2 separate regions of the Homo sapiens genome follow, and region 2 is linked to region 1. Evidence: fine-mapped expression QTL. A gene starts in region 1. The other region holds a variant in brackets. All regions are shown on one strand. Distances are between the middles of the regions.

Evidence for each region. PIP is the estimated chance that this variant, and not a neighbour inherited with it, causes the effect.
Region 2: its variant is the best candidate, but not a certain one, in a credible set for the expression of XKRX in nasal epithelium (TOPMed, PIP 0.53).

Annotation. Positions count from the first base shown.
Region 1 is chrX:100,926,380-100,931,759 of GRCh38, reverse strand. It overlaps XKRX (XK related X-linked), which reads left to right and starts at 2,843. Exons shown (of 3, transcript NM_212559.3): 1 at 2,843-3,790. The coding sequence starts at 3,456. RefSeq lists enhancers at 2,197-2,246, 3,440-4,639.
Region 2 is chrX:100,878,079-100,883,458 of GRCh38, reverse strand. No RefSeq gene overlaps it. Among named protein-coding and RNA genes, the nearest start is that of NOX1, 6.4 kb to the right of the region's middle. The variant C/T (reference allele first, on the strand shown) is at 2,493.

The DNA of each region.
Region 1 (5,380 bases):
TATGGGGGAGGAAGCGTCATCATCATCACCATTTGTCAATCACCATTGTCATCAACAAGTGCCACAATAAACAGTCATTGAGCATCCTTCCCTCACTAACTTTACATTTTTGGGGGGAGGCAGGACAAACACAGAAATAGTTGAAGGACTAGTATGAGAGAGCATGTGCCAGTAGCATGAAGAGAGAAAAATGAGGGTTGGGGAGGTGACAGAAGGCTTCTTGGAGGTGGGAGCACTTCGGCTGACCCTTGAAAGAAAGTTATGGTTTGGACTAATGGAGAAAAGGGTGAAGGGGGTTGTAAATCGCATCAACAAGGCAGAGGTGGGAGTGAGCAACGCAAATAGGAGAAGTGAGAAAACTGGCTGGCCTTGTGGAAGGAGTAGTGTGGGCAATAAAATCTGAGAGGGAAGTAGTGTGATGATTATATAGAGCCTTGAATGACAGACAGAAGGAGTCATTTTGGAACAAAGTAGGAAGGCATTGTAAATTTTTGTATTTGGGGAGAGACAAGGCCATGGAGAAGAAGGAGGAAAGGCTAAAAGGTAAACGTTGGGATTCTACATTCTTCTTCTTAGCTTTACTCTCCCATGTTTTTTTTTTTTTTTATTTTTAATTTTTATTTTTTTGAGATGGAGTTTCACTCTTGTCACCCAGGCTGGAGTGCAATGGTGCTATCTTGGCTCACTGCAACTTCTGCCTCCTGGGTTCAAGGGGTTGTCCTGCCTCAGCCTCCCGAGTAGCTGGGATTACAGGTGCCCACCACCACGCCCAGCTAATTTTTGAATTTTTAGTAGAGACAGGATTTCACCATGTTGGTCAGGCTGGTCTCAAACTCCTGATCTCAGGCCATTCACCCACCTTGGCCTCCCGAAATGCTGGGATTACAGGCATGAGCTACCGCGCCCGGCTGACTCTCTCATGTTTAGGGGGACCAACTCACCCTATCCCAGTGAAATGGGATTAATTGGTCACCTTGCCTGAGATTCACCTTGTGAACAGTTACCTAGAGCAGCCCCAAGAGGTTCTGCACCATATACTGGTGGTGGAGAACCTTGTCCCAGTTGGAATGTCCCAACTAATAAGAAAAAGAACACTCTCTGAAGTTGTTCTCAATAGTGTTGACCTCCTTCATGAAATGGAAAGGAGAAAGGAGCAGCCTCCTAGCCCAGCTGCTAGCATAGGTGCAGACCAAGATGCGGAGTCTGCTTCAGAAGGTGACAACCTTTAGATGTTGAATCTGTCCCTGAATCAGCCCTGGGGAAAGGAGGCAGCAATCATGGAAACCTTAAAAAAACAAAAAACAACATAATGACAGGACAACCTGGAGGCCATTATTTTGGTGGCTGCTACTTGGCCACTCCTCACATAGATTTGTTTTACTGACTTCCTGCAGCAAAAGGAGATTGGCACAGGCTCTGCTACATAATCATCATTATTATTATTATTATTATTATTATTATTATTATTATTAAGACGTAATCTTGCTCTGTTGCCCAGGCTGGAGTGCAGTGGCGTGATCTCAGCTCACTGCAACCTCTGCCGTCCGGGTTCAAGTTTTTCTCCTGCCTCAGCCTCCTGAGTAGCTGGGATTACAGTCACGCACCACCACGACCAGCTGATTTTTGTATTTTTAGTAGAGATGGGGTTTCACCACGTTGGCCAGGCTGGTTTCGAACTCCTGACCTCAAGTGATCTGCCTGCCTCAGCCTCCCAAAGTGCTGGGATTACAGGCGTGAACCACTGTGCCTGGCCTTCATCTATATTATTACCAGGAGGCAGATGTGTTCTCTTTTTCTCTGAGGTTTAGAATTATGCAAATGAAGATATGAAAACAAAAGCTCAGTGAGGTGGGGAGGATTACACTTAAGAATACAGGTAATTTTCAAAGCTCTTTAAGACACCCCTCTCAGTTTTTACTAACAGCTCTCTCTTGGCTCTTTGCCAGTCTGTTTAGAATTTGGCACCTCTTCATAACCTTTCAACCAAAGACCTGTAAGTTCATTCTAAAGCTCCTATCCTGGCCTCATTTTGCAAGTGGAGAAATCAAGGCATAAAATATGAGCTTTCAGTGTCTGTGGGCTGACCTTGAGTCTTGACCTTTATCCTGTTCTATCTTCCCTCCGCCGAAAACTCTGACCCTATTCCTCCCAGGTTCCCCCTTCATGATATTATCTGGAGGGCAATAGGACCTAGGGAGGTTCCACCCTGCGGCGGAGGGAGACACACCTGCCTAACAGCGTGGGTAGAGTGAGTGTTGAAGCAAGTCACTTAACTAGTTAGGGAGGGCGGGGTAGAAGTGGGGGCCTGCTGCTCCTAGGGAGGAGTAAAGCTGTGGCTCCTGCCTGGGTCTGGAGGTGGTGGTCAGAAGTGCTTCTGAAGAGCGGCCCAAGCCCCTTTTTGTCCCGCCACTCCACAACGAGCATCCCTCGGCTGGCCGCCTGCCCGGGAACTCTCCGGCTGGTTTTGTTTGGCCGCAGCCGTCCCGCCCATCTCGCCCGCCCCCGCCGTCCCGGTGCCTTAGTTTTTGAAGCTGCCGACCTCTCGCAGCTGGAATCGCAGACCAGGCAGGACCCTGGCAGCAGACGGCGTCCAAGAGTTTGGCGACCTCCGTCCAGCCAGGTTGGCGCCCCGCACATCGTGCCTCTCACTAGCAAAGTTTCTCCGAGGAGAAGCAGCCCCTCCAGCCTTTTCTTCATCCTGTAGAGCGAGCGCGCTCTGCTTCTGTCCCTCAACACTGCATTCGGAGACAGGGTGGTGACAATACTCCACTCCCGGGCCAGGCGGTCTTGGGGGCGGGGCTTGGGGGAATCCGAGGAGCTATCCTGAGAACCCTGGACTCGGCAAAGGTCCTGAGAGCGCGCAGGTGAGCGGGCCAGCTGATAGCTACAGCCTAGCAATAGCTAGGATACCTAGGCACTGAACTGAATCCCCTCTTCTGCCCTCCTTCTTCTGCGCCCGCTCTTCTGCCCTGGCTCAGCTCTCCGCTGACTTGAGAGGACACACTGGTCAGGACTCTTTGTGAGGAGCTGCTGAGTGTCGGTGCCCCCGACAGATCGGCTACACCCTGCCTGAGGGGCTGCGAAAGGAGCCGCCACGGAAGCCGCTGTTCTCATGACTCTTCACGTCCCTGGAGTTGGACTCTGGATGGGGCGCTGGGATGCTTGCTTTTGTCTTGTTCAAGTTTCACAGCAAGTATGTTGACGATTGGAATCGGGGCCAATCAAGAGTCAAGTTCAAAGTGGTACTCCTGGGCTTTCCATCCCAGACTCCAAGTCGAATCTGAGTCTAGAAGAGAGCGGTTTCTTGCTCTAACTAGTGAATCTCTGTTCCCAAACTGGACTTGACAGAGCTCTCCTCACCTATACTTGGACTGTAGCGGCCATAGGGTTCTCTTGGGGATGGGTGGGAGGGTGCTATGAACACAAGACCACAACATTCAGAAAGAACCTCGACAATGGACAGAGTTTATGAAATTCCTGAGGAGCCAAATGTGGATCCGGTTTCATCTCTGGAGGAAGATGTCATCCGTGGAGCCAACCCCCGATTTACTTTTCCATTTAGCATCCTTTTCTCCACCTTTTTGTACTGTGGGGAGGCTGCATCTGCTTTGTACATGGTTAGAATCTATCGAAAGAATAGTGAAACTTACTGGATGACATACACCTTTTCTTTCTTTATGTTTTCATCCATTATGGTCCAGTTGACCCTCATTTTTGTCCACAGAGATCTAGCCAAAGATAAACCGCTATCATTATTTATGCATCTAATCCTCTTGGGACCTGTTATCAGGTGAGCAACTTTTAAATCTTTTCCTTACCCCCCTAACCCCACCCCAGACTTGGGCAGAGAAAGATGAAAGATTTACAAGATGGATACTATGGCTCTAATCAATTCTCTCATTTCCTCCCACTCTCGGCTTCCCTGTCTACCATTCAGAAAACTTACCTGAAATCTTAAATGCCACCATGATGAACATGTGGTATGTACTTGTGTTCCAAAACAATGAACGATGCTATTTGGCCTGTGTAAACTAGAATGGGAACAACAAGACGTGATCACCCTGTGCATGAAGGCCATAGCTGCAGAGTGTGTAATTTTATTTAAAAAATTTTTTTTTTCTGAGACAAGGTCTTGCTCTGCCTCCCAGGCTACAGTGCAGTGGTGCGATCATGGCTCACTGCAGCCTTGATCTCCTGGGATCAAGCGAACCTCCCACCTCAGCCTCCAAGTAGCTGGGACCAAAGGAATGTGTCACCATGCCTGGTTAATTAAAAAAAAATTTTTATAGGCCGGGTGTGGTGGCTCATGCCTGTAATCCCAGCACTTTGGGAGGCTGAGGCGGGTGGATCACCTGAGGTCAGGAGTTCAAGACCAGCTGGCCAACATGGTGAAACCCCTGTCTCTACTAAAAATCAGCTGGGTGTGGTGGCGCATATCTGTAATCCCAGCTACTCTGGTGGCTGAGGCAGGAGAATCACTTGAACCCGGAAGGTAGAGGTTGCAGTGAGCCAAGATCGGTGCCACTGCACTCCAGCCTGGGCGATAGAGTGAGACTCCATCTCAAAAAAAAAAAAATTTTTTTTGTAGAGACGGGATCTCGTTATGTAGACTGGGCTCAAGTGATCTTCCTGCCTCAGCCTCCCAAAGTGAGCCACCGCGCCTGGTCTGAGTGTGTAATTTTGACTCTACCTTTTGGATGCTTTGTAAATTGGATAAAAGTTTCTTTACCCTGAGCTGCTTGGGCTGGTGCTACTGCCATTTTCAAATTTTCCAGAGTAATGTGACATCTGGAAACTATTTTAAACCATCTGTGGTAATCTGTACCCCAACCCAATATAGTTCAGTTCTCTGTCGGTTTATCAGTTTCCTATTTATCTCTTTGTATATTTCTGCAATAAAGATACGAAGTTGGGAGGGGGCAAAGGAAGGCAGTTCATCTCTCTATGTGGATGCAGTAGCACAATTTAATAGTATCAAGTATTTCCATTCAGATTGCCTTGAAGTGGAAAGAATGCACTTAATCCTAGCGAGATAGGCACCTGTGTCAACAGTCTCATCTGGATGCTATGGGGTTTTCAAGGTAGAGAGATGTTGCAAAACTTATGAGTTCAGGAGTAAGGAATGGACCAAGTTTGTCTTGATTGCAAGAGAGGCAGACAACTGCAGTCAGCCGAGGAATATGGGTCAGAGTGTTGCAATGGGAAGATACCTCATCATTAGACAACTAAAAAGTCTGTGAAACTAATTAAGGATGGAACTCACTCCTTTATAAAATTTCATATCTGTACACATGTATAATTTTTATTTGTCACTTATACCTCAATAAGGCCAAAAAAATTTTTTATCAATAAATTTTTAAGTGGGGAGGAATCGATTAGG
Region 2 (5,380 bases), 48 kb after region 1:
GGGATTACAGGTGCCCGCCACCATGCCTGGCTAATTTTTTGTGTTTTTAGTAGAGATGGGGTTTCACCACGTTGGCCAGGCTGGTCTCAAACTCCTGAGCTCAAGTGACTCGCCCGCCTCGGCCTCCCAAAATGCTGGGATTACAGGTGTGAGCCACTGCACCCGGCTTATCTTCTTTCCCAGGCAGAGTAGTCAGTTCAGAGCCAGTAAATATGGTTGCAGGAAAGTCTTTTCTTTACCATCTGTATTACTTTCCTATTGCTGCTATAACAAATTACTATAAACTTGGTGGCTTAAAGCAACACACACTTATTATCTTATGGTTCTGGTTGTCATAATTCTGCATTGGGTCTCACTGGGTTAAAATCAAGGTGCTGACAGGGCTGCATTCCTTTCTGGAGGCTCTGGGGGAGAAGTTCCAGCCCACATTCCTTGGCTCCTGGCTTCCTTTCTCTATCTTCAAAGTCAGTAAGAGTGGGTCATGTTCTCATATCTCATCACTCTGACTTCTGTGTCCCTCTTCCATTTTTAAGGATCCTTGTGATTACATTAGGCCACCCATAGAATCCATAATAATCTCCCTGCTTTGGGGTCAGCTGATTAGCAACCTTAATTCCACCTTCATTCCCCTTTGCCATGCAAGGTAACGTATTCACAGGCTTAGGATGTGGACATCTTTAGGGGGCTATTATTCTGCCTACCACACCATCACATGACAAATGTTTATTGAACATCTACTGTGCATAGAGAGCTTTGTGCTCTGCCTTAAGGAGCAATCTGGATAAGATAGGACTTGCTCAGAAAAGGGTAAATAACAATGGGAGGTTTCACAGGCTATGAGAGAGGTAAGAAGATGAGGAACTCATGCTATGTCATGCTATAAAAATTGGAAGACAGTGTGGTATGATGACTGAGGTGGTCAGAGAAGACTTCCTGGAAGAGGCAGAGCTTAATCGGTCTTCAAGAAAAGGCAAGAGTTGAATATTGTTTCTGAGCTGAATAAGTCTCACATATACACTTTTGAGGGCAGATTTCCAAAGTAGCAGATGTAACATGAAAGTACTCATTGCTATTCTAGTGATGTCTCCATGATACTTACTGGCCTAAAAATCACTGTTATACATACCAGCTCATTTGATGCTCACCACAGCCCTGTGATGGAAGTAGGGAGAACAGGGAACTACATAAACCTTTCCATCATTGAGTCCCCAGGCCCCTTTCCAGGCCTAGGGCCACCCCCAGTGTTCTTTCTTCCTTATGGCCATGGGGATACCACCTGTTTTCTTCTTTGGTAATTACTCCCCAAGCCTAGCTGCAGAATGAGACACAAACTCTGCACCTTCCCAGTTTCTTGCTACTATTGAAGCCAAGCACACAGGCTCATTTAAAATTTGCTAAACTCTGGAGAAAACAGGGTAAAACCGACGGACATAAGGTAGTGACAAAAGTTTCATAATCTTACAAAGTTTGTATAATAATGGTCTCTGATCTATAGTTTCTGCTCCCCTTTTCAATAGCAAAAGAAAGTACCATTGAGTTTAGGTCCTCTGCTTATATTTTCTTAGGGCTCATCATCATCATCATTATTATAGCAAGCAACTATGGAGTGCTTTTTATATGTCAGGCAGTGTTCTCATTGCTTTCCATACTTTAACTCATTTAATTCTTATAACAACCCATTTTATGGATAATGAGGCAGGCTTCAAACCTAGGTAGACTGGCTCTGGAATCTATATCTAACCAGTACACCATACTGCTCTACCATCTCTTCCGTACCACCACTTTGCCTTCTGCCTATCAATATAGGCTACAATTTGAACACTTTCTCCATGAGGGATCAGTACGCTAGGTTACAGATGAAGAAACTGAGGCTGAGCAAAGTTAGACTTTTCCAAGGGAGCATTAATAGTGAGTGGGGAGCTGGAGGTCAAATCCAGCTCCATCATACCATATTGCCTTTACAAGGTGCTACTTTGGTGAGGTCTGGTTCTGCTCCAACATAGTAAAAAGAATTGATTTCAAATAATTCCACATGTATCAGTCCCTCTTATCATTATGGGATGTTTCATTTTTGGACGCTGTAATCAAGACCAAATTAATACCTTTAAAGGCTCTAAGATTTAAAAGAAACAAATGGGCCAGGCGCGGTGGCTTACGCCTGTAATCCCAGCACTTTGGGAGGCCGAGGCGGGTGGATCACGAGGTCAGGAGATCGACACCACAGTGAAACCCCGTCTCCACTAAAAATGCAAAAAAAATTAGCCGGGCGCGGTGGCGGGCGCCTGTAGTCCCAGCTACTGGGGAGGCTGAGGCAGCAGAATGGCGTGAACCCGGGAAGCGGAGCTTGCAGTGAGCCGAGATCGCGCCACTGCACTCCAGCCTGGGCAACAGAGCAAGACTCCGTCTTAAAAAAAATAAAATTAAAATAAGTAAATAAATAAATAAATAAACGAATGTCCTCCCAACACCATCCTCTATGGATTCAAATTAAA[C/T]GTAATTATAAACAATAAAATAAGTAAAACAAACTATCATTTTCCCCATGACTACTTAAATTTTTGTTTTTGAAAACCAACCATCAAATTCTTTTATAAATTCTTAAAATAATTCTCAAAACAATTTTTTCTGATGTCCTAAGCACATGTTTAAACTGTTAAGTAATTCAACACTCTCTGTTATATATTAATTCCTGGAAGAGGTGTACAAGAGTTGTAACTGTAAAGGCAAATTTGGGACAAATGAGGACAGACACAAGTGATCAGGGAGAAGACACAACATGCAGGTCAGGTAAGGGCTTTGTGTTTACAGTTTGCAAGAATCCACCTACCATGGGTGGGATCAACCGTCTACAGGAAATCTTTCCAAAAGACTGCAGTCTATGGTAAAACTGTGAATAAGTTACTGATGACATTTAAGTACTCCCTAGAGATCTCCAGGAAGCAACCTCAAATTTAGTCAATGCCGCATAATCCATAAACCTGGGAAATGCAAACATTAAGACAGGTGAAGCAATACAGGGTGGAGGGGACTATTATAATGTCTAGAGCCAACAGAAGGAAAGCAATTCTGGGAGAATTTACAAAAAAGGGAGGTTGATGGTGAGAAGTTTTGTTTATTTATTTTAACTTATTTTTATTTTACTTTAAGTTCTGGGATACATGTGCTGAACGTGCAGGTTTGTTACATAGGTATACATGTGCCATGGTGGTTTGCTGCACCTATCAACCCATAATCTAGTTTTTAAGCCCTGCATGCATTAGGTATTTGTCCTCATGCTCTCCCTCCCCTTGCCTGCCACCCCCCAACAGGCCCCAGTGTGTGATGTTCCCCTCCCTGTGCCCATGTGTTCTCATTGTTCAACTCCCACTTATGAGTGAGAACATGCAGTGTTTGGTTTTCTGTTCCTGTGTTAGTTTGCTGAGGATGATGGTTTCCAGCTTCATCCATGTCCCTGCAAAGGACATGAACTCATTCTTTTTTATGACTGCATACTATTCCATGGTATATATGTGCCACATTTTCTTTATCCAGTCTATTATTAATGGGCATTTGGGTTGGTTCCAAGTCTTTGCTATTGTAAATAGTGCTGCAGTAAACACACACGTGCATGTGTCTTTATAGTAGAATGATTTCTAATCCTTTGGGTATATACCCAGTAATGGGATTGCTGGGTCAAATGGTATTTCTGGTTCTAGATCCTTGAGGAATCACCGCACTGTCTTTCACAATGGTTGAACTAATTTACACTCCCACCAACAGTGTAAAAGCATTCCTATTTCTCCACATCCTCGCCAGCATCTGTTGTTTCCAGACTTTTTAATGATCACCATTGTAACTGGCGTGAGATGGCATCTCATTGTGGTTTTGATTTGCATTTCTCTAATGACCAGTGATGATGAGCTTTTTTTCGTATGTTTGTTGGCCACATAAATGTCTTGATGGTGAGAAGTTTTTAGTGTGTCCGGCATTGCCCAAGAGAGGGAGGTTTCAGATTTGGGGCATGGATATTTTAGTTGAATTTGCTGGTGTAATCTTACCTTGAAAAGGGCCAAGTGAGTTTGCTGCTGCAGCTTAATAGTAATATTCCGTTAAGATCATCTGACTATCTTAGCTCAGATTCTGTGATCACCAGCTTATCAAAAGACTTCCTAGTACTCTGATATTGGGAATGGGGGTCCTACCTCACAGACATAAGGGTCCAATCAGCATGGCATATATAATTCTTTAGATAATACATAAATTGTCATCCAGATTATAGATCATTCTTTTATGAATCACAGGATCTCAATGTTGGAGTATATTTAAGGGACATTTAGTTAACCATCTACCTGGTGCTGATATTCCCCTTATAAAAAGCTGACAAGGGGTTGTCCATTTTTCCTTGAGAGTCTCAAGTAATAGGAAACTCATTACCTCTTTACTTCTCTGAATACCCGTGTTGGAAAATTCTGCTTTATATTGAAAAAAAATTGTGTTACTTTATTTATTTTTATTTTTATTTTTTGACACAGAATCTTATTCTTTCGCCCAGTCTGGAGTGCAGTGGCGTGACCTTGGCTCACCACAACCCTCGCCTCCTGGATTCAAGCGATTCAAGTGCCTCAGCCTCCCGAGTAGCTGGGACTACAGGCATGCACCACCATGCCAGGCTAATTTTTGTATTTTTGGTAGAGATGGGGGTTTGCCATGTTGGCCAGCCAGGCTTGTCTCAAACTCCTGACCCCAGGTGATCTGCCCGCCTCAGCCTCCCAAAGTGCTGGGATTATAGGCGTGAGCCACCATGCCCAACCTAAAGTGTGTTACTTTAGAGCCTCTATTCCTTGGTTGACTCCTTGGGTCACATACAAAACAATCTAAATCTTCTTAAAAAAAATGTAGATAAACTCATGTCCCCGATAAACCTCTTTCCAGGCCAAATTCCCTACACTCTTTAAATCCTCCTAATATAGGATGCTTTCAACTCATTACATCATCTTGGTCACCCTTCCATGGACAGGCTTTAGTTTCTCTTTTAATGTGTGGTCTTGGGCACGGGCAAGTGTTTTTGTAAAATTTACAAATGTAAAATATTTTCATTGCTAGTGATTGACTGTCTCTTACCACTCCAACTTCCCTCTGTCACACTTCCCCTCAGGTCAAGTGATGCTGGAGTGGCCATGAGCATTTCTGGAATACAGATAAGAGGTTGTTGTGTTGGTGGTATATTTAGTTTGGATTTAGGAGAATATATATTATGTGGTTCACTGACACTTCTATATCTAGTTAACTGATTGATAGCTGCCTTAGTGTAGAAATGGCTTCCAGGAAAACTCCTACCACCCACTGTGCCAATTTCACCTGGCATTATGATACTAAATTGCAGGTGTGTTCAGCAGCTAATGAA